Linked DNA regions of Homo sapiens. The protein of the gene in region 1 interacts with the protein of each later gene in a pairwise test. Each region holds a gene or a part of one and is shown in the gene's direction. Other genes may lie near its edges. The genes, in order: SPRED1, ZNF649, MESP1, GFAP, PCMTD2, AXIN1 and RAB11B.

Evidence for each region.
Region 2: the proteins of SPRED1 (region 1) and ZNF649 interact in binary tests that used the Homo sapiens proteins (3 or more experiments, as listed by UniProt).
Region 3: the proteins of SPRED1 (region 1) and MESP1 interact in binary tests that used the Homo sapiens proteins (3 or more experiments, as listed by UniProt).
Region 4: the proteins of SPRED1 (region 1) and GFAP interact in binary tests that used the Homo sapiens proteins (3 or more experiments, as listed by UniProt).
Region 5: the proteins of SPRED1 (region 1) and PCMTD2 interact in binary tests that used the Homo sapiens proteins (3 or more experiments, as listed by UniProt).
Region 6: the proteins of SPRED1 (region 1) and AXIN1 interact in binary tests that used the Homo sapiens proteins (3 or more experiments, as listed by UniProt).
Region 7: the proteins of SPRED1 (region 1) and RAB11B interact in binary tests that used the Homo sapiens proteins (3 or more experiments, as listed by UniProt).

Annotation. Positions count from the first base shown.
Region 1 is NC_000015.10:38,322,053-38,326,135, forward strand, and holds part of SPRED1 (sprouty-related, EVH1 domain-containing protein 1), read left to right. Parts: intron 1-188; coding exon 189-357; intron 358-2,710; coding exon 2,711-2,757; intron 2,758-4,083. UniProt on the Homo sapiens protein: Tyrosine kinase substrate that inhibits growth-factor-mediated activation of MAP kinase. Negatively regulates hematopoiesis of bone marrow.
Region 2 is NC_000019.10:51,901,841-51,906,551, reverse strand, and holds the start of ZNF649 (zinc finger protein 649), read left to right. Parts: upstream 1-1,534; 5' UTR 1,535-1,638; intron 1,639-4,711. UniProt on the Homo sapiens protein: Transcriptional repressor. Regulator of transcriptional factor complexes and may suppress SRE and AP-1 transcription activities mediated by growth factor signaling pathways.
Region 3 is NC_000015.10:89,748,941-89,752,707, reverse strand, and holds MESP1 (mesoderm posterior protein 1), read left to right. Parts: upstream 1-1,458; 5' UTR 1,459-1,476; coding exon 1,477-2,199; intron 2,200-2,480; coding exon 2,481-2,564; 3' UTR 2,565-2,833; downstream 2,834-3,767. UniProt on the Homo sapiens protein: Transcription factor. Plays a role in the epithelialization of somitic mesoderm and in the development of cardiac mesoderm. Defines the rostrocaudal patterning of the somites by participating in distinct Notch pathways.
Region 4 is NC_000017.11:44,908,608-44,912,690, reverse strand, and holds part of GFAP (glial fibrillary acidic protein), read left to right. Parts: intron 1-893; coding exon 894-1,019; intron 1,020-1,234; coding exon 1,235-1,455; intron 1,456-2,032; coding exon 2,033-2,076; coding exon of another isoform or gene 2,077-2,222; exon of another isoform or gene 2,223-2,430; coding exon of another isoform or gene 2,431-2,555; exon of another isoform or gene 2,556-3,019; intron 3,020-4,083.
Region 5 is NC_000020.11:64,265,637-64,269,719, forward strand, and holds part of PCMTD2 (protein-L-isoaspartate O-methyltransferase domain-containing protein 2), read left to right. Parts: intron 1-2,250; coding exon 2,251-2,374; intron 2,375-4,083. UniProt on the Homo sapiens protein: May act as a substrate recognition component of an ECS (Elongin BC-CUL5-SOCS-box protein) E3 ubiquitin ligase complex which mediates the ubiquitination and subsequent proteasomal degradation of target proteins.
Region 6 is NC_000016.10:290,092-294,066, reverse strand, and holds part of AXIN1 (axin-1), read left to right. Parts: intron 1-348; coding exon 349-579; intron 580-2,769; coding exon 2,770-2,877; intron 2,878-3,975. UniProt on the Homo sapiens protein: Component of the beta-catenin destruction complex required for regulating CTNNB1 levels through phosphorylation and ubiquitination, and modulating Wnt-signaling.
Region 7 is NC_000019.10:8,400,198-8,403,067, forward strand, and holds part of RAB11B (ras-related protein Rab-11B), read left to right. Parts: intron 1-1,888; coding exon 1,889-2,082; intron 2,083-2,287; coding exon 2,288-2,368; intron 2,369-2,870. UniProt on the Homo sapiens protein: The small GTPases Rab are key regulators of intracellular membrane trafficking, from the formation of transport vesicles to their fusion with membranes.

The DNA of each region.
Region 1 (4,083 bases):
ATGTGCATTTTTTTATTCCATCTTAATCTCTTTATTGAGTGACTTTGTGAAGTAGACCACTTTATTTAAAATACTAAAAATTATTCATTAAAAAGTAATAGCGTTGTATCACCTCAGTTTGTATTTATGAGCTACATTAGATGCATTTGATATATGTATATTAATTTTTGGTATTTGGCTTTTGTCAGGTGGTTTTGGAATGTATGCTTAAAAAAGACCTCATTTATAATAAGGTCACTCCAACATTTCACCACTGGAAGATTGATGACAAGAAGTTTGGTCTTACGTTTCAAAGTCCTGCTGATGCTAGGGCTTTTGATAGAGGTATCCGAAGAGCTATAGAGGATATTTCTCAAGGTAGGTATTCTTGACTATTTTCTTAATTTATTTATCGGTTATATATAGTAGAGGTTATCTTTCTTAAAGTTGACCCAAAGTAGTTTTCACACTTTAACCATGTCAGCTTTTGTGATATGTGACCAGGCTTTGAAACCTCACAATAGATGAAGATAAAATAATAGATTCCTTAACGTGATTTGTATTTGTCACATCATAGTCTATGTCAATTGCATGTATTATCTTGAAGAGTCCATCAACAGCTGACTTCAGATAATTCAAATGTTTTAAAATAAGAGCTTGAAGGAAGAGGGAATAGAAATGTACAGCTGCGAGAATCCCAGTTGGTATTCTACTTGTGTATGTATGACACCAGTCACATCCTTTTTTTGGGTAATTATATAGAACTTGTAATATTCAAATGTATGTAGACTCTAGTTATTCCATGACAAAAGTCTTTACTTGATTGATTTCATTATTGAGGATTGGCAGAGACCACAAGCTCATCTATTCCTTTGTTATCTTGCCAGTCTATTAAAATTATTAACTCAAAAGCATACAGGTTTTGAAGGGAAGAATAATGTTTTTTCATGTAAGACTGGCTTATGCTTACTTAAACAAAAATCACATTAAAACCCATTTCTTCCCATAAAGGAAGAACTAAGACTTGATTTTTTTTTCTAATTAGGAGGAAAATTATTTCAATTTAACTAACTTTCTATATAAAGTAACTGAAAGTGTGCTAGACTACGTTGTGATTTGTGTTATTTTGAAGATGTCATTTTAATAAGAAAATCTGAAAACATAAACTGTGAGACCAGTCACAGGCAAGAACATGGAAATACATTGTACAAATCTGTTTTGATAGTGCATAAAACTGTAGTTAAGTAATTTATTTAGCTACTTTAAAAGATTAGAATTTGGTAAATGAGTAATTTTTTATTCTGATCCAGAAAAAATTACTATGAAGTAATAGTAGCCATTTTGTCTTTATTGTAAGACCCCATAAATTCTCCTTAGATCAGTGTTCTTAACCTTGGCTACACATTAAAATCACCTGGGAAGCTTTTGAAGCTTAAAATGACTAGTCTGCACTCCAGACCAATTGAATCTATCTGGGGAATAGAGTCGAGTCATCCCTTATTTTTCAAAAACTCCAAGAAAGTTCAAATATGGTGAAGAATTGTTCTCTAGTCAAGGAATTGTAATTTGAATTTGAAGAAAAAAAAATAAGAAACTTAAAAAAAAAAATACATGATGTTCTGTGCCTCATTCCACAGAGATTCTGATATATTTTGGTTTGACGCCATACTCTGGCATCAGTGTATTTTTTGACAATTCCTCAGTTGATTCTAACCTTTAGCCAGGTTTGAAGAACCAGTGCTTTAAAGAGAGAGAAAAATAGTATCCATGGCTGCTGGAATTTATATGATTTAAAGTTTTGAATTACTTTTAAGTTTATGCTCATGTACCATAACAGTATACCTCTTTCACTAGGATCAAACAGATTGGGTTTAATGTTTTAAAAAATGATTTATAAGGAGTAGCTTACAAACTTCTAGGTAGAGTAGACTACAGTACTTAGTCTGCCTTGTTATTTTTGAACATTAAAAAACATTAGCTAGCATTATTATCAGCTGCTATATAGACTTTCAACAATCTCAAATTGCTTTTACTCGACCTTCTGTGACAAAAAGATAAAATATGCTGCTCTTTCCAAAGGGCGCATTTCTTCTTATCTCATGCCTACTCCGTGCTAAGCTGTGCCTCTCAAGGGTAGCATGAACTAAGAGTACTTTGCTAGGACAAATCCTTTCTTATTAATTTATTGAAACTAAAGGTACTCTTAACAGCATGAAAATCTGTACAGAGACGTTGATGCAAAAAAGTCAGTAACAACAATTGGCCATTAACTGTCAATAGTGGATTAAAACTCATTTGTTTTCCATCTTAGCTAAAGCAACTAAAATCCTGGTTATGGGTACTAAATACTGTTTCCTGGGTCAAAGCATTTAGAAAAATTGAATAAATCACATCTTAGCATCACCAGAGCAATGTAATTATAATCTGCCTAGTAATTTTGAGTATTTGGGAGAAACTAGGGGCAGGGGTAGCTAGAGATAGTATACTTTCAGAGAAAACATCTCGTTAGTAAGCAGCTGGAAATTTACCTATAGAGGAGGGAAATAATTACATTATTCTCCATTATTCTAACAGGGGCAAATGCAAGTGGCCAGTACCTTAATTGCCAGGCAGTCCAGAAAGATCTCTGATTAGTCTTCTAAAGTATTATAATGACATAATCAATTAGTCATTAATACTGGACTCTAAGACAAAAATTCTATACTTAATTAACTTTTATCTATTTTCTTAGGATGCCCCGAATCAAAAAATGAAGCTGAAGGGGCAGATGACTTACAAGTAAGTAATGGCTTGGAAGGAATTTGTAAACATAAAGGATGTGGAAGAAATCACTAGCCTTATTCAATAAACTTATCAATTACTAAGAATATTTCTAAGACACTCTATTTGTCAGATTTCTCCAGAAGAAAAGAACCAATACAGGTTGAGCATCCCTCATCTGAAAATTTAAAATCTGAAATGTTCCAAAATCTGAAACTTTTTTTCTTTTTGAGACAAGGTCTTGCTATGTTGCTCAAGCTGGTCTCGAACTCCTGGGCTGAAGCAACCCACCCACCTCCCCACAGTGCTGGGATCATAGGCCTGAGCCACCGTGCCTGGCCCCAAAATCCGAAACTTTTTGAGTATGGACATGACACCTCAAGTAGAAAAAATTTACACTTGACCTCATGTGATGAATCACACTAAAAATGCAGTCAGAATTTTGTTTCATGCACGAAATTATTTAAAATCATGTATAAAATTACCTTCAGCCTGTGTGTTATAAGGTGTATAAACATAAATTTCATCTTTAAATTGGGTACTATCCTTAAGATGTCTTATTATGCACATACAAATATTCTGAAATTTGAAACAGTTCTGGTTCCAAGCATTTCAGATAAGAGATATCAATCTTTATATAGAAAGTAAAGTTTCTGGGGTTTTTTTTTTCTTTTTTAAGGAAGTGGTTCATAAGATTGTGGGCTGGGTTGGCAGAATGGGCAGGCACGCTGAAAATTGGCACAAGTTGATGTTGCAGTCATGAGAAGGCCGAATTCTATTTTCTTCAGAGGACCTCAATCTTTTTTCTTATGCCTTTCAACTAATTGCGTGAGGTCACCCACATTATGGAGGATGCCTAACTGCCATATTAAAAGGACATTCAAGCAACACTGTGTAGATATTCATGTGGTGAGGAACTGAAGCGTTCAGACAATAGCCATATTAGTGAACCACCTTGGAAGCAGGTTATTCAGCTCCAAGCAAGCCTTAATAGATGACCAGTTGTGGCATGTTTTCATTGCAACCTTATGAGGAACCCTGAGCCAAAACCATCTAGTTAAGCTGCTCTTGAATTCCTGGTCAACAGGAATTGTGAAATAATAAATGTTTGTTATTTTAAGCCACTAAATTTGGGAATGATTTTTGACTAATGCAGATTCTGAAGACCTGAAAATGGAGTGCTGCTGTAACAAATACTAAAACATGGGAATGACTTTGGACTCAGGACTCAGACAGTAAATAAAAGCTGGAAGGTCTTTGAGGCGAGTTTTAGTGAAGTTCCGAAGAGACTTACTGGAAGCTTGAAGATCTTTGGATAGAGCGTCAGTGAGGGCTTAAATGAAA
Region 2 (4,711 bases), on another chromosome or scaffold:
CAGGGGACCGGTGCTCAGCATACAGAGGACCCGCGCCGGCACCGGTCTCTGAGTCCCTCAGTATTTATTGATCATTATCTCTACCATCTCGGAGAGGGGGATGTGGCAGGACAATAGGATAATAGTGGGGAGAGTGTCAGCAGGAAAACATGTGAACAAATGTCTCTGTGTCATAAACAAGCTTAAGAAGAAGGTGCTGTGCTTTGATATGCACATACATAAACGTCTCGGTGCATTAAAGAGCAGTATTGCCGCCAGCTTGTCTCACCTCCAGCCCTAAGGCGATTTTCTCCTATCTCAGTAGATGGAACATACAATCGGGTTTTATACCGAGACATTCCATTGCCCAGGGACGAGCAGGAGACAGATGCCTTCCTCTTGTCTCAACTGCAAGAGGCCTTCCTTCCTCTTATACTAATCCTCCTCAGCACAGACCCTTTACGGGTGTCGGGCTGAGGGATGGTCAGGTCTTTCCCTTCCCACGAGGCCATATTTCAGACTATCACATGGGGAGAAACCTTGGATAATACCTGGCTTTCTGGGGCAGAGGTCCCTGTGGCCTTCCGCAGTGTATTGTGTCCCTGGGTACTTGAGATTAGAGAGTGGTGATGACTTTTAACAAGCATACTGCCTTCAAGCATTTGTTTAACAAAGCACATCCTGCATAGCCCTAAATCCATTAAACCTTGAGTCAACACAGCACACGTCTCTGTGAGAACAGGGTTGGGGGTAGGGTTACAGATTAACAGCATCTCAAGGCAGAAGAATTTTTCTTAGTACGGAACAAAATGGAGTCTCTTATGTCTACTTCTTTCTACATAGACACAGTAACAGTCTGATCTCTCTTTCTTTTCCCCACAGTGCACTGTTGTTAGTGCTCCAACCTCACAGTGCAGGGGTTGAGGTGTCAGGAGAGGGAACACATCAGTGCCATTTCACTGTCTCCTGTGTCAAAGCAAAATTAAAATGCAGACCAGAATTCAAAAACTCCTGAGCAAACAAAACCCAGTAGGCCTTAAAAACAGCCTTAACCTTGCTTAACCTGCAAACATAAGCAACAATTCACTTGAGTCATTTCTGGTAAATGCTTGTGTTAGGGAAGGACAAAACTCAATCTCAACCGATCAAAAGTAGGCAACTCACATGCTATTATGTCATTAGGGACTTTCCAAGGCAAATTTAAAAAAATGCATTTTTATAATTGTAACTAATCAAATAATTTCTTTGTTTTACTCCTTCACTCACCCTGTGAATACTTGTGTCTAATGCTTTAAGCATAGAAGCGCGAGACTTCTTTTGGTTTGATGCTTCCTAATTCATGAATTGCTGTTTGTTCAGATAAACTCTAGAAAATGCTCCTGCGCCTCAAATTTTTGCTTTCAGGAGAGTCATCCCGGTTTAATGACACAAGAACAACTGTTTCCCTTCTGTACGGCAGATCTACCAAGATGGCCGCGCCCAGAGAGCCGTGGCTCAGGGCGCGGACATGTTACCTCCTCGAAGAGAAGCCCATGTCCCATCGTCCTAGCGCGGCAGAATTGACTCGCGCCCTCGTCCGCCGCCATAGGCCAGTGCCGGGGTTTAAGGGCCAGGAAAGGAAGCATTCAGGGAATTTAGGTGTAGCCAGAAGAAAATCAGGTGAGTGTTTGGGTCTCTCCGTGGAGTAGGTTAAAGGGGTAGGGAGCTTCTGAGGAGCCTGTGGGGAGAGCTGGCGGCCTGGGCGGTGGAGCCTTTGGGTTGGGGTGCCTTTGCGGTCCGGCGTGGGAGAGTTCTTGTGGTCGGGCGTTAAAGGTCTGTCGAGTTCAGCGACTGAGACTCGGCGTCAGAGTTTGGGGTCTCTGAGGGTCACTCTGTTAGTAGGCCTCTGGATCACTGGATGGAGAACTCTAGGGGGACGCTGCCCAGCACGCCGGCTTTATCACCGACGCCATTATTATCACTCCAAATGCTGCAGTTTAAAGTCGGTGATGAAGCCGGGGTGCTGGGCAGCGTACGAGGGTGTGTGGTGTAGGTTTTGGGGTGAATCGGGGATGTGTGTTAAGTGTTTCGGGGAGGCCCAGGCATGTGGGGCTCAGAGGCTTGTAAAATCTGGTATTTTACAAGCCCAGGCCCCTGGCTGGGGTTGAGTTGTGAAACTATAACCGCCCACCCTTGCCGGCTGCCTAGACAGAGCCGACTTGTTAAGACAGGGAAATTGCAATGGAGAAAGAGCAATTCATGCAGAGCCGGCTGTGCGGGGAGACCGGAGTTTTATTATTACTCAAATCAGTGATAAAAGAAAAATTGAAGCCGAATTAAATTTACAGGAGTTTCCTTGAGCAATGAACGATTCGCGAATTGGGCAGCCCCCAGAATCACAGCAGATTAACAGAGACTCCAGGGGTGCCTCGTGGTCAGAACAAATTTATAGACAAAAAAGGTAAAGTGACATACAGGAATCGGAAGCGAGGTCCAGAAACAGTGAGATTGGTTACCATTCGGCGTTTGCCTTATTTGAACGCAGTTGGAACATTCAGCAGTCTATGAGTATGGCCGCTGGGACTGGCCACCACTCAGCTATTGTTACAGGTGCATACGATTAAGTTCGGTTTTCAATTTTGTCTGTTAAGCTAGGTTGCAGTTTATCCACAAGGACTCAAATATAGAAGTATGGAGTCGTTCTCAGGCAATATTTAGTTTGCTTAAGCATCAGTCTCCTTGAGCATTTGGGGATCAAAGTTTCCTCCTATCCCCCAGACGGAATCTAGCTCTGTTGTCCAGTCTGGAGTGCAGTGGTGCGATCTCAGCTCACTGCAACCTCCGCCTCCTGGGTTCTAGCGACTGTCCTGCCTCAGCCTCCCGAGTGGCTGGGATTACAGGCGCCCGCCACCACGCCCGGCTAATTTTTGTATTTTTAGTAGAGACAGGCTTTCACCACGTTGGCCAGGCTGGTCTTGAACTCCTGACCTCAGGTGATCTGCCCGCCTCGGCCTTCCAAAGTGCTGGGATTATAGGCATGAGCCATCGCGCCTAGCTATGATTGTTACGATTTATAAGAAATGTATAATCGATCTTTGTCCTGTTTCCTGGCACATGTCTCCCAAAAGCCTTGGAACCTCTTCAGTAAACAGTGCCTTTTTGTGTGGCATTGAGATGGCTGGTGACTGGGGGCTTCTGGCTGGCCTTAGGACGGGGGAGGCTGGTTGCCAGGGCAACTAACCATGTCATTTGAGGGTTGGAAATTTTAGCTCTGCCTGGCAACAGGGAAGTTGAAGGTTGAGTTGATCACCAGTGGTTAGTGTTTTAATCAAGTATGCCCACATAATGAAACCAGCGTAAAAACTCAAAAGGACTGGTGAACTTCTGGGGAACTTACAGATTCTTGAGCATGTGGAGGTGCCTGAGGGTGGTGAACTGAGTCTCTAATAAGCTTCCGTGGAGGGCATGGAAGTCCCACGCCCCTTGCTACAAACCTTGCTCTGTGCTATCCCTTCCATCTGCCTCTTCATCTGTATCCTTCGTAATATCCTTTATTCCTTTTCCCATTTGCCCTGAGAATACTCACCTTTGGTGCTTGCAGCTGGAGCATTTACCCCGAGATAACTTTGCCATGAACGATCTCACTTTTATTATTTTCACATCGCTCTAGTAGGTCGCCTTGGGAAACAAAAGACATCATTCTACTTATAGCATTCTGTTTTTAGTAGTGGTATTTCCATTTACAAAATGTAGTAGTTCTCGATCACTGAAAATGTCAAATCCTAGAAAACGTAGCATTCCTACATGTGATGTTAACATCATTCTCAAACAGTTCTTGGCTGAAGACTCACTGGATGGATCCGATTTTTACCAAATCGAGAATTCTGATGATTCCAAATCGAGAATTCTGATGATTCAGATGATTCTGATGTTAGTTCTGTTTAGAAATAACTCCTAGAACAGCTTTTATATTTTATTTTCACATTGAAAATCAGATTTACTGCAGCCTCAAAGAGCATGTTTATGTAAAATGAAATAAGCGCTGGCAGTGAGCTGCACTTCGTTTTTCTAGACAGGAAAAGAGTTGAAATAAACCAGTAAATGTTAAGTGCTTTCCTGAGTTCTGTGAGCCATCCAGCAAATTAATCGAACCTGAGGAGGAGGCCGTGTGAATCCTGATTTATAGCTGGTCCATCAGAGGTACAGGTGACAACCTGCTGCTTGCAACTTGCGTCTGAAGTTGGGGGCAGGCTTGAACTGAGCCCTTAATCTGTGGTGTCTGACACTATATCTAGATACACAGTCTCAGACTGAATTAAATTATAGGATGCTGTCTTAGCCTTGTTGGTGCTGCTATAACAAGATAGCTGAGACTGGATAATTTATAAACAACAGAAATTTATTTGTTATAGTTCTGGAGACTGAGAAGTCTAAGATCGAAGCACCAGCAGGTTTGGTGTCTGGTGAGGGCCTGATTTCTGCTTTCAATATGGTGTTTTGTCGCTATTTCTTTGGAGGTGAAGAATGCGGTGCCCTCACATGGCAGAAGGCAGAAGAGCAGAAAGGGCCGATCTGTGTGTGAAGCCTCTTTTATTTTTATTATTATTTCTTCTTTCTTTAGGTTTTTTTTTTTTTTTTTTTTTGATACAGAGTCTCACTTTGTCACCCAGCCTGCAGTGCAGTGGCACCATCCTAACTCACTGCAGTCTCAACCTCTCAACCTCCCAGGCTCAAGCAGTCCTCCTGCCGCAGC
Region 3 (3,767 bases), about 51 Mb from region 1:
CCATAATCCTCTTTAAGTGGCTGAATGGTCACACCTCTTCCATTGACAAGCTGGGTTAAGTCAATAGGTTGAGTAGGATCAACACGACCCAAATCAGTAACATATTACAGTCTATTGATACTTAAAGGTTGATACTGGTGTCTGAAGCTAAGTCCTTCATTAAATCTGTATTTTGGGATTCCGATGTAAAATAGAGTCTGGCCATCCCCAAAGCCCAGCAGAGCCAGTTTCCTCTCTGCCTTTCTCTTTTATGGCCTCTGCCGCATTTTCTACCTCTTCTCCGACCTTTTGGTCGTCTCATGGGTTTCCTGGAGCCAGGATTCCGCTTTAAATTGGTCAGGCTCATGCGCAGCAGGGCCCAGAGCTGCCATAACCTGCGAAAAGAGTTTTATTTCTTCCTTTCTGACCTGTATGTCTTTTGTTTCCTAATTGCATAGCCTAGATCCTCCATCTGGTACAATGTTGAATAGGAGTGGTAAGAGAGACACCCTCGCTTTGTTCCTGCAATCGGGGGGTGGGGGGAAGATTTCAGTCTTTCACTACTCAGTATGAGGCTACCTGTAGGTTCTTTGTAGGAGCCTTTCATCAGGTTGATGAAATTCCTCTCTATTCTTAGTTTGCTGAGAATTTTCATCACGAAGGGTGTTGGATTTTGTCAAATGCCTTTGCTGCGTCATTTCCACTCACATTTCATTGGGAAAACCTGTTATACCTGTCCAATAGCGGCAGAACATCAGGTAAAGGCCAGTGGTGACAGCTGTGGCAACAGGCCAAGCTCCAGACCTTGCCAGGCTAGAGGTGGCCTGGGGTTGGAGCAGGCTTAACCCCCTCCCTCTGCTCAGAAGGTCCAGCATCCTGACCAGACTCGGCAGCTTATTGAATTTGCCGGGGTGCAAGCTTCCTTGCACTGTCCACATGTTCTTACCAGGGAAGGGTCTACCCAGGGCCATCCTGCCTCAAAGGAGAAGTGGTTTACTGTTTTCTCCACCTTTAGAGGGAATGAGGGTCCCTGCTCCTGGTCCTTACTCTACTCCACTGTCCAATTGGCGCATGCCCTGAGGCTCTCATTATACAAATTGGAAGCTAAGGTGCAAAAGAACTAAGAATTTGCATAAGGTCCCCAACAGGTGAAGGCAGGCCCCAAACCTAGGATCTAGATTTCGTTTTTCTGACCCCGCTTCCTTTAACCTGCAGGGCTGGCCCAACGCCCCGGGCTTCACCCAACACTGGGCGCAGGCGGGAAGGCCGAGAGGCTGGGTCGGGCGCCCAAGCGAGGGCCCAGGTGGGGCGAAACAGGCGCAGTCAAGGGGCTGGCACCTTGGCCCCCCGCCGTGGATTCAAAGGGTCAGGCTCCGCCCCCTCCAAGCCCCGAGCCCACTTTGATGTGCTGATGCGGCCTGGAAGGGGCCACTTCACACCTCGGGCTCGGCATAAAGCGGCCGCCGGCCGCCGGCCCCCAGACGCGCCGCCGCTGCCATGGCCCAGCCCCTGTGCCCGCCGCTCTCCGAGTCCTGGATGCTCTCTGCGGCCTGGGGCCCAACTCGGCGGCCGCCGCCCTCCGACAAGGACTGCGGCCGCTCCCTCGTCTCGTCCCCAGACTCATGGGGCAGCACCCCAGCCGACAGCCCCGTGGCGAGCCCCGCGCGGCCAGGCACCCTCCGGGACCCCCGCGCCCCCTCCGTAGGTAGGCGCGGCGCGCGCAGCAGCCGCCTGGGCAGCGGGCAGAGGCAGAGCGCCAGTGAGCGGGAGAAACTGCGCATGCGCACGCTGGCCCGCGCCCTGCACGAGCTGCGCCGCTTTCTACCGCCGTCCGTGGCGCCCGCGGGCCAGAGCCTGACCAAGATCGAGACGCTGCGCCTGGCTATCCGCTATATCGGCCACCTGTCGGCCGTGCTAGGCCTCAGCGAGGAGAGTCTCCAGCGCCGGTGCCGGCAGCGCGGTGACGCGGGGTCCCCTCGGGGCTGCCCGCTGTGCCCCGACGACTGCCCCGCGCAGATGCAGACACGGACGCAGGCTGAGGGGCAGGGGCAGGGGCGCGGGCTGGGCCTGGTATCCGCCGTCCGCGCCGGGGCGTCCTGGGGATCCCCGCCTGCCTGCCCCGGAGCCCGAGCTGCACCCGAGCCGCGCGACCCGCCTGCGCTGTTCGCCGAGGCGGCGTGCCCTGAAGGGCAGGCGATGGAGCCAAGCCCACCGTCCCCGGTTAGTGTCCCCTTCCCCGCGCCCCCTTCGTCCGTGCCCCCGCGCACAGCCCCACCGCCCGCCAAGGTGAGGACCAGGCACCCTGCTGCTCCCCGCCGGCAGCCTGGCCACCTGGCCACCATAGTATGCCCAGGGCTCCAAGAAGCGAAGGCAGGGAAAGGCCACGCAGAGGACTGGGTCTCCCCTCGCTAGGGGCCCCCTGAGAGTGGAGCCCACGAGCGCGGACACCCGCACAAGGCCACCAGTGCTTGAGGGCTGCGCTGTTCCGTCTCTCCCTACAGCTCCTTCCGGGCGACGTGCTGGCTCTGTTGGAGACCTGGATGCCCCTCTCGCCTCTGGAGTGGCTGCCTGAGGAGCCCAAGTGACAAGGGACAACTGACGCCGTCTCTGTGAGCACCGAGGCTTTTTGGCCTCAGCACCTTCGAAGTGGTTCCTTGGCAGACTGCCTTTCCTGGAAGAGGGCACGGGCGATCCCGACGGGGGCATTCCTGCGGGTGAGAGCCGTCCCCACCGCGGCGGCCCTTCTCAGCCCCTCCCTCCATGGAGGGACCCATAGGGCTAGACACTTTGAGGCAAGCAGGAGGCTCTGCCTAATGTGAATTTATTTATTTGTGAATAAACTGTACTGGTGTCAGTTGGCAATTTCTTCTTCCTACCCGTGGACACAGAGCTCCCTCTCTCCCTCCAAAGAAGAGCATGGGAGAGGTGGGAGGGGTTCTTGCAATCTTTAGCCCCCCGACCCCCACAGGCCCAGACCCCTTTGGCCTTACCCCCAGCCCTGGCTCAGCATCTAGTCCAGATGGGTCAGCCTGGAATGGGTGGGGAGGGACGTCCTGTGAGAAGGCAGCGGCAAGTAGAATCTGCTCATCTTTTCTTTGAACCTGGTGGGGAACTGGTTAAAACCAAAATATCTGTGTAGAAATACAACTCCATTATTGAGTATTTATTGTATGTACATCAGGTACCTATTATACTCAAGTAACCATTTTACAGAAGGATGAGGATCAGCGCTCAAGCCCAGGTAGGCCTCCAGAGTCCCAGCGCTCAGCTCTTGTGGGATTTTGCCAGCTCCATACATGTTGGGGCCTGAGGGATAACAGCTCCAAGGGGTTATTTTCTTGCATCCTGTGGTCTTATTCTCCATGCACGGGAGCATCCTGGCCTTGGAACTCCCCCACCCTCCGCCGGCATTTTCCCATCTGCCTTTTCTCTGGTTTCCCCACCTTGTGGCTTAGAGACATAAATAATGGTGTGGCGGTCCTGAGTTTATATAACCATGACCTCCTACAGGCCTAGATGGGGTGAGATGAGGGGCCCATGGGGTTGCATCGGAATCCACACAGGCAGTTGCGTGCCTGTCTGCATTGGCTGGATTCACATCAGGGAGCAAGAAACGGGAGGCTTGAGCCCAGAAAGTGTGTCCTCATCCAGCCAGGGTGTCTGGGCAACAGTCATGATTAGAGGGTGCGGTGGGGAGAAGGGATGTGTAGCCTCTCTGCCAAGCGTCCTTTACCCTCTATGGATAGATACCCAGTTCTCCCCTCCTCTCCTTCAAGTGTCTGAAACAC
Region 4 (4,083 bases), on another chromosome or scaffold:
GACACTGTAGAGGGGGCATTTGGGCTAGGCAGGACAGGCACGCTGTGGACAGGAAGAGAAGAAGGGAGGGCCATTCCTAGTGGAGGACAGAGCCTGGAGGCAGAAAAGCACAGAGAGGCAGGGCCCCAAGATGCTAGCCTAGCCAGGGCACCTAGCTGAGGAGTGTGAGTGGCAGAAGCCACTGGTGTCTGAGCAGGGTGAGGGCCCGATGGGGCTGGGAGGACCTCCCTGCAGGCAGGGGAGAAAGGGCTATTAGAACCCAGGGTGAGGCCAGGCGAGGTGGCTCACACCTGTAATCCCAGCACTTTGGGAGGCCGAGGCATGCGGATCACCTGAGGTCAGCAGTTCAAGACTAGCCTGGTCAACATGGTGAAACCCCGTCTCTACTAAAAATACAAAATCAGCCGGGTGTAGTGGCGCATGCCTGTAATCCCAGCTACTCAGGTGGCTGGGGCAGGAGAATTGCTTGAACCTGGGAGGCAGAGGTTGCAGTGACCCGGGATTGTGCCACTGACTTCCAACCTGGGCGACAAGAGCAAGACTCTGTCTCAAAATAAAACAAAAAAAACAAAAAAACAAAAACACACAAAACACCCAGGCCTCCGCTCGCCTAAGACGACAGCGTTCAGTCCCGCAGATGCAGCTGTCAGTGTGGAAGGTTCTGGATTCTGTGGCACTGTTCATTCATTCGCTTGCTGACCAGGTGTTGTGCTAGGTGCTGAGGTCTGGCAGCCCGCTACCCTGCCCGCATCCATGGGTCACAGTTGTTGGGAAAAGTCCCAGCCAGGGCCAACGTCCTGGGGTTAACTGGGGTGCTGCTCACCTCCCTGATTTCCCAGAGCCCGTGCCTGCCCATGGGCCCACACAGCCCCCCATATGTGTCCCCCACCTAGTTTGCAGACCTGACAGACGCTGCTGCCCGCAACGCGGAGCTGCTCCGCCAGGCCAAGCACGAAGCCAACGACTACCGGCGCCAGTTGCAGTCCTTGACCTGCGACCTGGAGTCTCTGCGCGGCACGGTGAGCGCGGCCAGGGCAGGACGGGGACGGGCGGAGCAGGGACGGCCACCCCAGGAGATGCCAGGGGAGAAGGGCCAGGGACGAGGACCTGGGTCGAGGGCGGGGCCTGAACGTTACCCCCGGGCTAGAGGCGGGGCCTGGGGCCGGGGGCCGGGCCTCGAAACCTCCCCAAGTCGGGTCGGGGCTCCGCGGGACCGGCCGGCTCCATCCCACAGAACGAGTCCCTGGAGAGGCAGATGCGCGAGCAGGAGGAGCGGCACGTGCGGGAGGCGGCCAGTTATCAGGAGGCGCTGGCGCGGCTGGAGGAAGAGGGGCAGAGCCTCAAGGACGAGATGGCCCGCCACTTGCAGGAGTACCAGGACCTGCTCAATGTCAAGCTGGCCCTGGACATCGAGATCGCCACCTACAGGAAGCTGCTAGAGGGCGAGGAGAACCGGTGAGCCCTCATCACAGCCCCTGGGGAAGTCTCCCTGCTGCCTCACGGTAGAGCTCATCTTGCTCCCTTCAGGGACTGAGTCTTTTTCAGCCTTGTGTGCAGATCCCTTCCCACCTCAATGCCCAGCACAGTGCCTGCCTCACACATAGCAGGCAGTCACTAGATGTTTGATGACTGAATGGATGGATGGATTCAACCAATATTGATTAGGCCTCAAGGCCAAGGACTTGGGTCACCCTCCAAACTAAGAGGCATACTCCCCATCTTCCCAGCCAAGATTGGACTCCTCACCTCACCCATCTCTTCTGCCTCCTTGGAACTTTCTTCACCACTTTCCCCTCCCTTTTCCATCTTCCTTCAGATAGACATGCGCCCCTCCCAGATAACACTCAAGCCCCTTGCAGACGTTTGGAACTCCAGATAGCACGTTGGCTGCTGGGGAAAAAGCTAGGAGATGGAGTTAGACTTTCCTGGCAAGGAAAAGGGCGTTCAAGTTGTCATGATGGCCCCGCACCAAGACCCAGCCTAGGGGTGTCCCAGGCAGCCCGGGCAGCCCTCTCCCTCTGCTTTCTTTCAGGATCACCATTCCCGTGCAGACCTTCTCCAACCTGCAGATTCGAGGTCAGTACAGCAGGGCCTCGTGGGAAGGGCACTGGAGTCCTGCCCCCTCCTCCAGGGCCTGTAGGTTGCTCCAGACTGGGACTGAGGATCAGGGCAAAGGGATCCAGCTCTCCCTGGGGGCCTTCGTGACACTGCAGCGCTCCTAGCCAGAGCCTATCATACCAGGGTACTTCTAGGTGGGGCTTGCAGCTGCCCCTGTCCTGCTAGGCCCTGGTCCCTCTTCCCCTCCCTGCACCCCATTCGACAGCAGAACTGGGTGAGAGCTTGACATCTGCCCTGTCTGCAGATCCCTGAGCAAGCACTGCCCTTCTGAGTGTTTTCTGTTTTTGTTTTTTTAACTGCTTGTCACTACAGGGGGCAAAAGCACCAAAGACGGGGAAAATCACAAGGTCACAAGATATCTCAAAAGCCTCACAATACGAGTTATACCAATACAGGCTCACCAGATTGTAAATGGAACGCCGCCGGCTCGCGGTTAGCTGCCTGCCTCTCAGACACGGCGCTTTGCCCAGCTTGACAGGGAGTGAGCCTCACCCACCCCATCCTCCCAATCCCCCTGAGTTCCCTCTTCCCAGGCTTCCCCTAAAGGGCCTGGACTGCGTCATTTTCCCAGGAACTGCAGTGCCCAGCCCAGGACGTGGTACAGAGTAACTGTACATTAAACTGGCAGAGCTTGTTAGTGGTAAAGGTGGTGAGTCCTTGGGTGCGCAGTGGAGCTGCTCTGGGGCCTCTGAGCAAGCAGCAGCCTCTGTCTCACCTCTTCCTGTCACTGGGAGGGCCCCTTGGGTCTCGCTGTGCCTGGACGCCAGGCTCTCTGCTTTATTCTTTCATCCCTGAGGCTCCATCGCTCAGCTCAGTGCTGACTCAGTTCAGAGGATTCTTCCCTCAGGACCGCAGCTCTTGCAGTGAATAAAGTTTTATGTTCCCTGCTCTTAATGTTAAATATTAGTGAATGTGACGTGTTATATTTTTCTCTCTCGGGCGGGGCGGGGGGAGGGGGGAGCTAAATTACTTTTTACTTGCATTGGCCCTGAAATGATTCTTAGCTAAGGAACAAAATTCCTCTTCTTCTGGACTAGAATATTTAGGACCACTAGATATGCATGTCTCAGGACTTAATTCAGCATCAGAAAGGCTAACCAGGCTGACTAGTAGAGGTAATACTGCCAAATCCTAGATAGTCACAGGTCACTAAAGCACAGATAAATGGCAGAGAGAAGTAGGAAAGAGGAAAGGGGACAGGAAAGGGACCTATGTGTATTGAGCACTAATATGTGCCACATGTTTAACAGCCTTTATTTTAGTTAATTGTCTCCTCTCTCCCACCTAGAGAAGTAGGCCCCATCATCCTTATTTTACAGATGAGGAAACTGAGGCTGGGAGAGGTCAATTAACTTGCCCAGAGTCATGTGGCTGGTTGGTGGCTAAGTTGGGACTTCTTGAGCTCTGGTCTCCTGATCCTTCCTTCCTTCCTTCCTTCTTTTCTTCCTTCCTTCCTTCTTTCCTTCCTTCCTTCGGCAGAGCGTCCCTCTGTCACTCAGGCTGGAATGCAGTAGTGCAATCTTGGCTCACTGCAACCTCCACCTCCCAGGTTCAAGCAATTCTCGTGCCTCAGACTCCCGAGTAAGGGGATTACAGGTGCGAGCCACCACACCTGGCTAATCTTTCTTTTTCTTTCTTTCTTTCTTTCTTCCTTCCTTCCTTCCTTCCTTCCTTTCTCTTTCCTGCTTGCTTGCTTGCTTGCTTGCCTGCTTTCGACGGAGTCTTACTCTGTTGCTCAGGCTGGAGTGCAGTGGCACGATCGCAGCTTACTGCAACCTCCGCCTCCCAGGTTCAAGTGATTCTCCTCTCTCAGCCTCCTGAGTAGCTGGGACTACAGGCACCTGTCACCATGCCTGACTAATTTTTGTATTTTTAGTAGAGACAGGGTTTCACCATATTAGTCAGGCTGGTCTCAAACTCCTGACCTCAGGCGATCCACCTGCCTCGGCCTCCCAAAGTGCTGGG
Region 5 (4,083 bases), on another chromosome or scaffold:
TGAAACGCTTTTCTCCACCTTCCTTCTCTGTCTCTCTCTTTTTCCTTCTTCTGTCCCTTCCCCCTCACCTCCCTCTTCCTTCCCCTTCTCCTTCCCCCCAGCTGTTCTGAGTTTTAATTCTAATTGTTAATCTATTATAATTGTTCTGCTGTTAGAATTATATATAAAATAGAGTCATTCTATTCTCATCATTAGTCTAATTGTTACATGCCTTGATGTTATGCATTTGACAGGAATCCTTTGCCTAGTGAGAGTCTTGTCCAAGTTTGCTGTTTGGTCATGCTTGTTTGTCTGTGTTACTGTATGTCACTGGGAAAAATAGTTTATAGTAAATGAACAGATTAATCAGACATGAATTGGTCACCAAGAAGAATGTCTCCCAGTCACAAAGAACTAGGAAAACACAAATAATAAAAATTAGGAGGTTTTAATTGTTTTAATAAAAATTTGGAGATGAGATCTTGCTCTGTCATCCAGGCTGGAGTACAGTGGCATGATAATAGCTCACTGTAACTTCAAACTCATGGGCTCAAGTGACCCTTCCGCCTCAGCATCCCAAGTAGCTGGCACTATAGGCACGTGCTGCCATGCCCAGATAAATTTATTTTTTAAATATTTATTTATTTATTTATTTATTTAGAGACAGAGTCTCGCTCTGTCGCCCAGGCTGGAGTGCAGTGGCGCGATCTCAGCTTAGTGCAACCTCTGCCTCCTGGGTTCAAGCGATTCTTCTGCCTCAGCCTCCTGAGTAGCTGGGATTACAGGTGCGTGCCACCACACCCAGCTAATTTTTGTATTTTTAGTAGAGACAGGGTTTCACCATGTTGTTCAGGCTGGTCTCAGAGCTCCTGACCTCATGATCCGCCCACCTCGGCCTCCCAAAGTGCTGGGATTACAGGTGTGAGCCACCGTGCCCGGCCTAATTTTATTTTTTTAGTGATGGGCTCTCACTGTGTTGCCTGGGCTGATCACAAACTCCTGGCCTCAAGCAATTGCCTCACCTCAGCCTCCAGAGTTGTTGGCATGAGCCATCACACCTGGCAGAATATTGTTTTAAATGTCTTTGCTTATACAAGTGATATTACAGATCTTTGTTGCTATACAAAATGCATTGGATTTTTTATTGGAATTGTATCATCTCGATAATTTGAGGATTGTGGCCATCTTTACAATGTTTCATCTGCTTATCTAGAATATGAAATAGGGGTTTATATAGTTTTATTTAAGGTTTTATACATCATTTATTGATTCTATTGAAATACTTGTTTTTCATTGTAACTAGAAATTCTTTTAAAAATGTTTAAATAAACATATGTTTTGCTGGTATACAAGAATGTTTGTTGATATTTACTTAGTACGTGGCGACTTAATCCTTTTAGTTATAAGATTCATGACATAGAATCTTAGTTTTTAGAGGATTTACTGACTTAGATATTTTTAGAAAAGGCCAGCATATAATCATAGCATGAAAGAACTGACCAGAAATAGTTTTGTGACCTGTGTAGGCCACTTGGAGACTGACCCAGCCACACAGAGTGCACAGAGGGTCATGTCTAATTGTGGTCTCTGGTGCTCGTAATACTTTAATTCAAAAGAAATGTTTTGATGGCCTACACTGGAGTGTGTTAAGCCACCAGATTCCGGTGCTTTCGTGGGGGTGATATCAGGGCAAGGCTCATTTAAACACTTCAGTATTTGTCTCCAAAGCATGAGGATAATTGCCCAGGCATCCAAGATGACAAGTTTGCATTTAAAAAAGTAACAGGGATTCTGTAACAGTATCTGTTACTACAGTGCCTATCAGGACTTAGCCACCCTCCCAATAACAACAGGTCAGGATTCAGTTGGTTGGTAACGTATCTGTAATTACTTTTTGCTTTAGAACAGACCCCCTTTTCACCCTCAATATTGACTTTTTTGGAGAGTGCTAGAGCATTGTCTTATAAGAATCCCCACACTGTCTATGTGGTTGTTTCCTCTTGCTATCCTATAACTAGTTTCTCTATAATATATAGTTTCTGTAAACAGAAGTTAGGCCTAGGGCCTGAATATATTCAGGTTAGCATCTTTGCAGGAATATTCATAAGGTAGATGTACTTCATGGCACATCACATTAGGGGTCCGTATGTCAAGATATTTCATTTTATTGTAAGCATTTCTATGTATTTTTATAGTATGTATAGGAATGATTAAATATGAGCTAAATAGTAGCCAATTCTTTTGAATATTCTCATTTTGTCTCTGGGATAGTTGACTAAGATAACACGCACAGGTCCTTCAGCTTGGGAAACCAAAAAGATTCTTGCTGTTTCTTTTGCTCCTCTGATCCAGCCCTGCCATTCAGAGTCAGGAAAATCAAGACTTGTCCAGTTACGTAAGTATACCAATCTTTACTTATTTTATCTTTTAGATCTTTTCTCTCTGGTTAGATTTTAAAAGGAAACAAAATTTACAACAAACCTTTTGATATTAAAAAGCACCACTCCCATGCTGAAACTGTAAAATTCTACAAGCAATTTCAGGCATTATAAAAATTATAATCTATTTTTAACCTATTTCAGGTAATTTTAGCCGTCTTTTAAATCTACAAAGAGCTGTTGCCGGTCACACCATTGAAAGCCGAGGACGCACATAAAAGGGAGCTCATTTTGCCATGTGGGAGACTTAGCCTATTTGCCGCCTCCACTGGGAGGGGCTTACAGAAAGAGCCATCAGCCAGAGGGCTCCTACAGAGTCATGGGGCTTCTGCTCCCCAGGGCGCCAAGCGCCTGCTGCCTCATGGGTAGACAAGGTTAGAGAACACATTCCAGCTAATCTGCTGGGGTGTGGATAGGAGACTTTCCGTGGAACCTTACACAGCCGAGCCTTTGTGTTTCACTATTTCAGGATGCAAACTGAGCAAGGAACTGATACCAGGGCCAGCACGACAGCAAAACCTCCTAATGTTTTAAAATTTAAACGGCTCACACAGAAATGAGAGTTCCAATTGATTTTATTTAAAATAAAACTATCAGGATGCTCTCTGATCATTTAGAAAATTTGGAAAATGCAAAAAATAATAGGAAGGGAAAAGTTTTGCATAGTCTTACAAAAAAAAAAAAAAGTTTTGCAAAAAGTTTTACATTTTGGCAAATCTCTTCCAGAAAGGTTTTTTGATTTATTAGGAATCACCTATGAAATGATTACACTTTGCTTTGGTCTCTACTAAGTACAGGTTCTAAGAACTAGACACGGTTCTTGAAATTTGATAATGAGCAACAATAGGACATGCAAAACGGTTAATTAGGGAAGGTTTGGCAGAGGGTGATGTCTGTGCTTGGCCTTCAAGGGCAAAAAGGAGTTCCCTAAAGAGAGAAGAAAGGGGAGAAAAGTACCAGCAGTGGCAGGACATAAATCAAAATGCGTGTTCCCCGTGTAGTCAGAGTTGGGACTGATGGGAGAAACTACTGGTATGTAGGTTAGAATTGGGTTTATCATGTAGGCTGGGGAGAGCTATCAGATGCTTTAAATAAAAGATACAGTGCCTGTGTATCCTGGATAAGCCTGGTTGTCGTCGGGTGGAGGGTGAATCTGTCAAATGCGTGCTCTGAAAGTCTCATCAGAATAACCTTTTAAGTAACTGCCGCCCTTGGCGGGGAGGGCACCAGCTTCCAGAGCCTTAGCAGAGTTTGGGAAGGCAGGGGCATCTTCGGGGTATTTATGAGACTTTTTGAGGGTCTGGTTGAAACGAGCCGTTCCCTGTGGGGTTCGTCTGGCCGATGAAGAATCATGACAATGTGGTGGGCAGTTTGGATGCTTGTTTTGAGGAGATGGCTTTGAAGAGAGTGTTAGATGATCAACAGTAATGTGATGCTTTTAGAGTTTCTGAAGTGACCCATTGAGTTACTTGCAACTTTTCTTTTCCTGGGCCAGTTTCCTATACTAGTAAATTCATGTTGGTAAAGACAGTGGAGTAGAAAACTCTGTGAGTGTAGACATACGTGATATGGGGTCATGTGAGTGTAGATGCGTGGTGTGGGGTGTGTAAGTTTAGACCTGCACAATATGGGGTCAAAGTGAGTGTAGACGTGTGTGGTGTGGGGT
Region 6 (3,975 bases), on another chromosome or scaffold:
GCCCCAGCCTCCAGAGTAGCAGGGATGACAGGCGCCCAGCTAATTTTGTATATTTAGTAGCGATGAGGTTTCACCATGTTAGGTTGATCTCGAACTCCCGACCTCTGGTGATCTGCCCGCCTCGGCCTCCCGAAATGCTGGGATTACAGGTGTGAGCCACCATGCCTGGCCGGGATGTTTTTATTGTGTGGTCTGTGGAGGACGTCCATGTGGCTTGGTGGCCAGGCCCCAGTGCCCCATCCCATCCTATCCCTCAAGGAGGCTGCCCTTGTGAGATGAGTGTAGCCCCACCAGGCCACCTGGCCAGGGTGTCGGCCACAGTCACAACTTGTTCTCTTGTTCCCCAAGGTCTTCGGGGACGAGGAAGCCACAGCCCCATGAGAACTCCAGACCCTTGTCCCTTGAGCACCCCTGGGCCGGCCCTCAGCTCCGGACCTCCGTGCAGCCCTCCCACCTCTTCATCCAAGACCCCACCATGCCACCCCACCCAGCTCCCAACCCCCTAACCCAGCTGGAGGAGGCGCGCCGACGTCTGGAGGAGGAAGAAAAGAGAGCCAGCCGAGCACCCTCCAAGCAGAGGTACGGCCGCGTCGTGGGGTGGGGTGGGTCTTGGGGGTTACCACAGCACCACTCCTGGGGCTGAAGCTCCCCGAGGCCTGAGGTCTTCAGGGGAAAAACGGCCCTCTGGGTGTCCCCCAGCCATACTGGGCCCTTCCATCCACTGAGAACCACTGAGGGGCCACGTGGCAGGCCACCCTGCGGTGGACGGAGGCTGGGGCTGGAGCTTTCACACACCCGAGGCCGCCGCGCTCATTGCTCTGGAGGCGGGGTCCCTCCTCAACCTGAGCCCAGTCTGCAGGGAGGCTGCAGGGCCCCAGTGTGTGGGGAACGCCGGTCCCCAGCCAGAGGCTGCTCGCTGCTGGGCAGCCTGGGCTTTAGGGCAGAGGTCCTGGAGGCATGGCGGCTGCCTCTTGACAGTTGCGTCCCAGGAGCCCTGAGTGGCTCTGCACGGTCGGAAAGCTACGTGGTTCTGAAAGCCGTGCAGATGTAGAAGTGTCGTCCTGGACGTCCAGCCCACAGCCCTCCTCGCTGTGTCCTCTTGTCATCCTGGATGTCCAGCCCACAGCCCTCCTCACTGTGCCCTTCTCTCATCCGGGACGTCCAGCCCACAGCCCTCCTCACTGCGCCCTCCTTGGTCTTCTGGGCTCCGTAGCCAGACCCTGTTCTCTCCCTAGGGCAGGGAGGCTTCTGTCTGGGCTGCAGGGAGGTCTCCCCTTTGTGTGGGCAGCATTTTCGCTCCAGGCCAGAACCTGGCTTCTCCATTTTCAGCTTGCTCATAAGGCCAGTTTTCTCGGCCATCCTGGGTCATTGGAATTCCCCACAGATCAGTGTCTCTTTGAGGGTCCTGGGAGCCTATAGCTCACCCAGGCCCTGGGGCTGTGGTCACAGAGGCCATGGTTGCCTTCAGAGGTCACCAGCTCCTCCTGTCCACCTTGGGTCACCTGGGGCCTGGGGTCCAGGCCCGCCTCCCGGGCCTCCAGCTTTGGGGCTGTGCCACTCCAGGGAGGCTGTGGCTAGGGGCCTTATTCTGCCGAACCAGCATCAGGGTTCAGACCCTTCCCAGCTGAAAGCCTGTGTGGTCTCAAGTCATTAAAGGTTCCTGAGCTTCTGCCAGGCTGTGAGCCTAATGACAGCTCTGGGGCCAGAAAGGGTCACAGTTACCTCAAACCCAAAGGGTGACCACTTTATGACCAAACATCTGTGACCCTGTGATCGTGTTCGGCCAACAAGGAGCTGGAGCCCCCTGCCATGCAGGAGCCTGGAGTGTGGTGCTCGGAGCCGGGGCGTGTGACTGGGCTGGCAGATGAGCCGTGGTGGGCATCGTGTGCAGCAGGTCCGAGGCCCTGGGCGTGTGTGGGCTCTCCTGCCGGGGCTTCCTGAGCCATCCTTGCTGGGCTGAGCAGGGGTCTCTCAGGTTGCGTCTGCGCTTTCCCCTGGTACCCGTGGCCCCACATGATGGCAGGGGATGCCCGCTGAGCCGTGGGACCACTCCCGCCGTTCTGAGACACGACCCTCCCGCCCGTTTGGCTGCTGGGCTCCAGCATCCCCCCATGGGGAAACCCAGAGTTGCTGGGTTTGTCCGTCCAGGGGATGTGGGTTTTTGCGAGAAGCTGTGGAGACGGAGTGAAGGCCCAGAGGCAGGTTGGGTGCTGGGCCCTGTCAGGATGTCAGAGTAGAAACCACCATCAAGGTCGCCCAGTGTACCCCGGTGGAGGTGTCCACGTGAGAGGAGCTGCTGTGCTGCCCCAGGATGGCCTCAGTTGTGGCGCCGGGGGGCCCTCAGCCTCCCTGAGGTGCAGACCGAGTTGCCACGCACGCCCCAGAGCCAGTGTCCACGCTATCGGTGGGGAATTCATGCCAAGAGACTGAAGGACAGACTCTCGGGACGAGATGTCATCCCACCAGAGGGGATGAGGTGGTGGGATCCCAGCACCCCTGATCGGAAGCTCCCCAAAGTGCGGTCCAGGGAACTCAGGGGGTTGGTGCCGGGATCATGAATGTGGGGCGCGCTGCAGTATCGGGTACCACCAAGGCAGGCCTAGGAGGGGACTCGGTGTCTTGTCTACCCTGCAAACTGGAGCCTGCGCAGGGTGGGTTGTTCGGGCCCTTCACGCTCCGTCCGTCCCTGCGCAGCAGCATTGGTCGAGGCTCCCTCCCCAGGGCTGGTGGCCGCCGGCACAGCCACCTTTGACGCGGGTTGTTCCCTAGGTATGTGCAGGAGGTTATGCGGCGGGGACGCGCCTGCGTCAGGCCAGCGTGCGCGCCGGTGCTGCACGTGGTACCAGCCGTGTCGGACATGGAGCTCTCCGAGACAGAGTACGTGCGTCCTGAGGGTCCTCCCGGTCCTGCCCACCCCAGCCCTGGCGTCCCAAGCCAGGTCCCATCGTAGAGCCGCCGTCCCGGGGCTTGAGCTCGGGTACCACGCTCAGAAGCAGCTGTGGCAGGAGAGGGTCCCGTGGCATCAGACTCGAAGCTGCCCGAGAGCCTTCTCCTGTCTCCATCAAAGGAGACGCTGACTGTCCAGCATGATGACAAGTGACCAAAAGGCCCGGCTGGAGGCCTGGGCACAGCCAGCCCCTGCATCCACACAGGTGTCACGGCCAGGCTTCCTGTGGGGCAGAGACCTGCCTGCGCCTCCACCCGGCTTGGAACGGGCCGGTCCCTGCCAGGCCTGACTTGACCAGGCTCGGGGCTGCAGGTGCTGAGGTGCCCGGGGTGCGTCTGCTTGCAGTGTGGGTCTCAGCCATGCGTGTCTGTCCAGCCCGTGCAGTCAGTGAGTCGGGGCTCTGCTCCCACCTACAATGCTGACTGCTCTGAACCCGTGAGAAAGGGCTCAGACCATGTGATCCCACATGGGCCGTGTCGACGGCGCCTTTATGTGCTCAAGGTGGCAGGAGGAGGGGGCACACCCCAAAAGGGGCCTTGAGAACAAGGGTCCCCCAGGCCTTGCCAGGCTTGCCCCAGATGCAGGTTTGTTGTGGCCCTCATCGTGTAGGCGGTCTTGGGGCAGCCTTCACCTGTCCCTGGGGCAGCCCCCACGTGTTGGCTCTTCTCTGATGGGCCTGGCTCCAGGAGGCTCCGAGGATGTGGCACTGGGAGGACGTCTAAGAGCGCACGTGGCTGGGGGCCTGGTGTGCAAAGAGGATGGTCACATGGCTCAGGTGGCCATGAGGCCTTCCTGCCCTGGTGTTGGCTCTGGAAGCCTCTGGTGCACCCAGCCAGGAGGAGGCCCAAGGGCTGAACCCCAGTGGGCCAGGGGCAGCTTCTGGAGTCACTTGAAGGACAGGTGGCGGCGGGGTAGCCGAGTGGGGGGTGCGAGAGCAACCAGGCCCCGCCCGTCATCCCGGCACGGCTGTGGAAGCACAGCACCTGTCAGAGGAGGGCCCGGCTCAGCCTGGGCAGGAGACGGTGCCA
Region 7 (2,870 bases), on another chromosome or scaffold:
CGCTTTAGCCATGCGCCGTGGGACCCTCAGGCTGACCAGCGCCCAGCCTTCGCCACACCAGGGTATCTCTGGGTACCAAGTGCAGTGAGGACCTAGCTCAGGCCACTCCGCCTTGCCGCTGCCCCTGCCCAGCCAGCATCCCAGCCTTCCTCCTCCCTCAGCTTCCCTCCTCACTGGTGCCCACACCTGGTCCCACACGCCTCCTGTCCTCCCACCTGGGCCTGGCCTCCATTCCCTGCAAAGGCTTCCCAGCCATCAGGACCCACTCAGCTGCCTTTTTCTGGACCCCTCCCAAGCCCCCCAGCCATTCCCACCACCGTCTTGAGATCCTCTGGGCTCCCTCCCATCTCCTTCATCCCTCAGGTACATCTGTCTCTCTGTCACCTCCTCTTGTTTTTTTTTTTTTGAGATGGAGTTTCACTCTTGTCGCCCAGGCTGGAGTGCGATGGCACGATCTCGGCTCACTGCAACCTCCGCCTCCTGGGTTCAAGCGATTCTCCTGCCTCAGCCTCCCAAGTAGCTGGGATTATAGGCACATGCCGCCATACCAGGCTAATTTTGTATTTTTAGTAGAGATGGGGTTTCTCCACATTGGTCAGGCTGGTCTCAAACTCCCGCCCTCAGGTGATCCACCCTCTCGGCTTCCCAAAGTGCTGAGATTACAGGTGGCGTGAGCCACCGTGCCTGGCTGTCGCCTCCTCTTTTTTGGAGACAGACAGGGTCTTGCTCTGTCGCCCAGGCTGGAGTGCAGTGCCACAATTGCAGCTCACTGCCCCCTTGACCTCCCAGGCTCAAGCGATTCTCCTGCCTCAGCCTCCTGAGTAGCTGGGGCTACAGGCCTGTGCCACCATGCCTGGCTAATTTAATTAATTAATTTATTTATTTTTTAGTTTTAGTTTTTGAGACAGAGTCTCACTCTGTCGCCCAGGCTGGAGTGCAGTGGCGCAGTCTCAGCTCACTGCAAGCTCTGCCTCCCAGGTTCACGCCATTCTCCTGCCTCAGCCTCCTGAGCAGCTGGGACTACAGGCGCCCACCACCACGCCTGGCTAATTTTTTGTATTTTTAGTAGAGATGGGGTTTCACCGCATTAGCCAGGATGGTCTCGATCTCCTGACCTCATGATCTGCCCGCCTCGGCCTCCCAAAGTGCTGGGATTACAGGCGTGAGCGACCCTGCCTGGCCTATTTATTTATTTTTTTGAGATAGAGTCTCACTCTGTCATCCAGACTGAAGTGCAGTGTCACAATCTCGGCTCACTGCAACCTCCGCCCCCCGCCCCCCAGGGTTCAAGCAATTCTCCTGCCTTAGCCTCCCGAGTAGCTGGGATTACAGGCGCCTGCCACCACGCCTGGCTAATTTTTGTATTTTTAGTAGAGATGGGGTTTCACCATCTTGGCCAGGCTGATCTTGAATTCCTGACCTCGTGATCCACCTGCCTCGGCTTCCCAAAGTGCTGGGATTACAGGCATGAGCCACGACCCCCGGCCAATTTTTGTGTTTTTCTAGTAGAGATGGGGTATCGCCATGTTGCCCAGGCTGGTCTGAAACTCCCAGCCTCAAGTGATCCACCCGCCTCAGCCTCCCAAAGTGCTGGGATTACAGGCATGAGCCACCATGCCCAGCCCCTTCTTCCCTTTTTTTGATGACCTCACGGTATCTTCTATTTCCAGCTCCCAAACTCCCTCCTCAGACCCCCACATTTCAGAGCTGGATCCAGGGAGCAGCGCTGGGGCCTCCAGACACACACCCTTCCCTTGAGGCCACAATGACTGCCCCTTGGCTCGGCCCTGGACGACCCACCCTGGGCGTGATGTGTGCTGTTATCCCGTGAGGCTGCCGCTGCCCATGGTTGTCCTCCAGAGAGGCTCATGGGCCCCTGACCCTGCAGGTACTACCGTGGTGCAGTGGGCGCCCTGCTGGTGTACGACATCGCCAAGCACCTGACCTATGAGAACGTGGAGCGCTGGCTGAAGGAGCTGCGGGACCACGCAGACAGCAACATCGTCATCATGCTGGTGGGCAACAAGAGTGACCTGCGCCACCTGCGGGCTGTGCCCACTGACGAGGCCCGCGCCTTCGCAGGTGAGCAGACGGAGACGCAGGCATCAGAGAGGTGTCTGGAAGGCAGGAGGCCCCTCACAGTGTTGGGGCCCTGGCCACAGCCCTGGCTTCCCTTCCCTGAGGAGTGGCCTTGGGATGGGCCAGGTGGGTGGGCGGGGTCCCTGAGAGCATGTGGGAGCCTGTCACCCTGCCTCCCCACTCACCTAGGCAGTATTCTTTGTTCCAGAAAAGAACAACTTGTCCTTCATCGAGACCTCAGCCTTGGATTCCACTAACGTAGAGGAAGCATTCAAGAACATCCTCACAGGTGGCCGGGGACCAGATGGGTGTGGGTAGGGCACCAGCCAGGCAGGGTGGAACACGGCCTCTGAACCTTCGCTTGTTTTGTTCGTTTGCTTGTTTTTTTCTTTTTTTTGTCGGGGCAGGATGGATTTTTGCTCTTTGCCCAGGCTGGAGTGTGGTGGCTCGATCTCAGCTTACTGCAACCTCCGCCTTCCAGGTTCAGGCAATTCTCCTGCCTCAGCCTCCCGAGTAGCTGGGATTACAGGTGCCTGCCACCACACCCGCTAATTTTTGTAATTTTTAGTAGAGACAGGATTTCACAATGTTGTCCAGGTTGATCTCGAACTCCTGGGCTCAAGTGATCCTCCTGCCTCAGCCTCCCAAAGTGCTGGGATTACAGGCGTGAGCCACTGCACCTGGCCTGTTTGATTTTTTTCCACCACCACCCCTAACCTTTGCTTTTTAAACCTGCCGGTCCACCTGGACACTTCACAGGGTCAGACCAGGTCTAGCCCTTGCTGGCACTG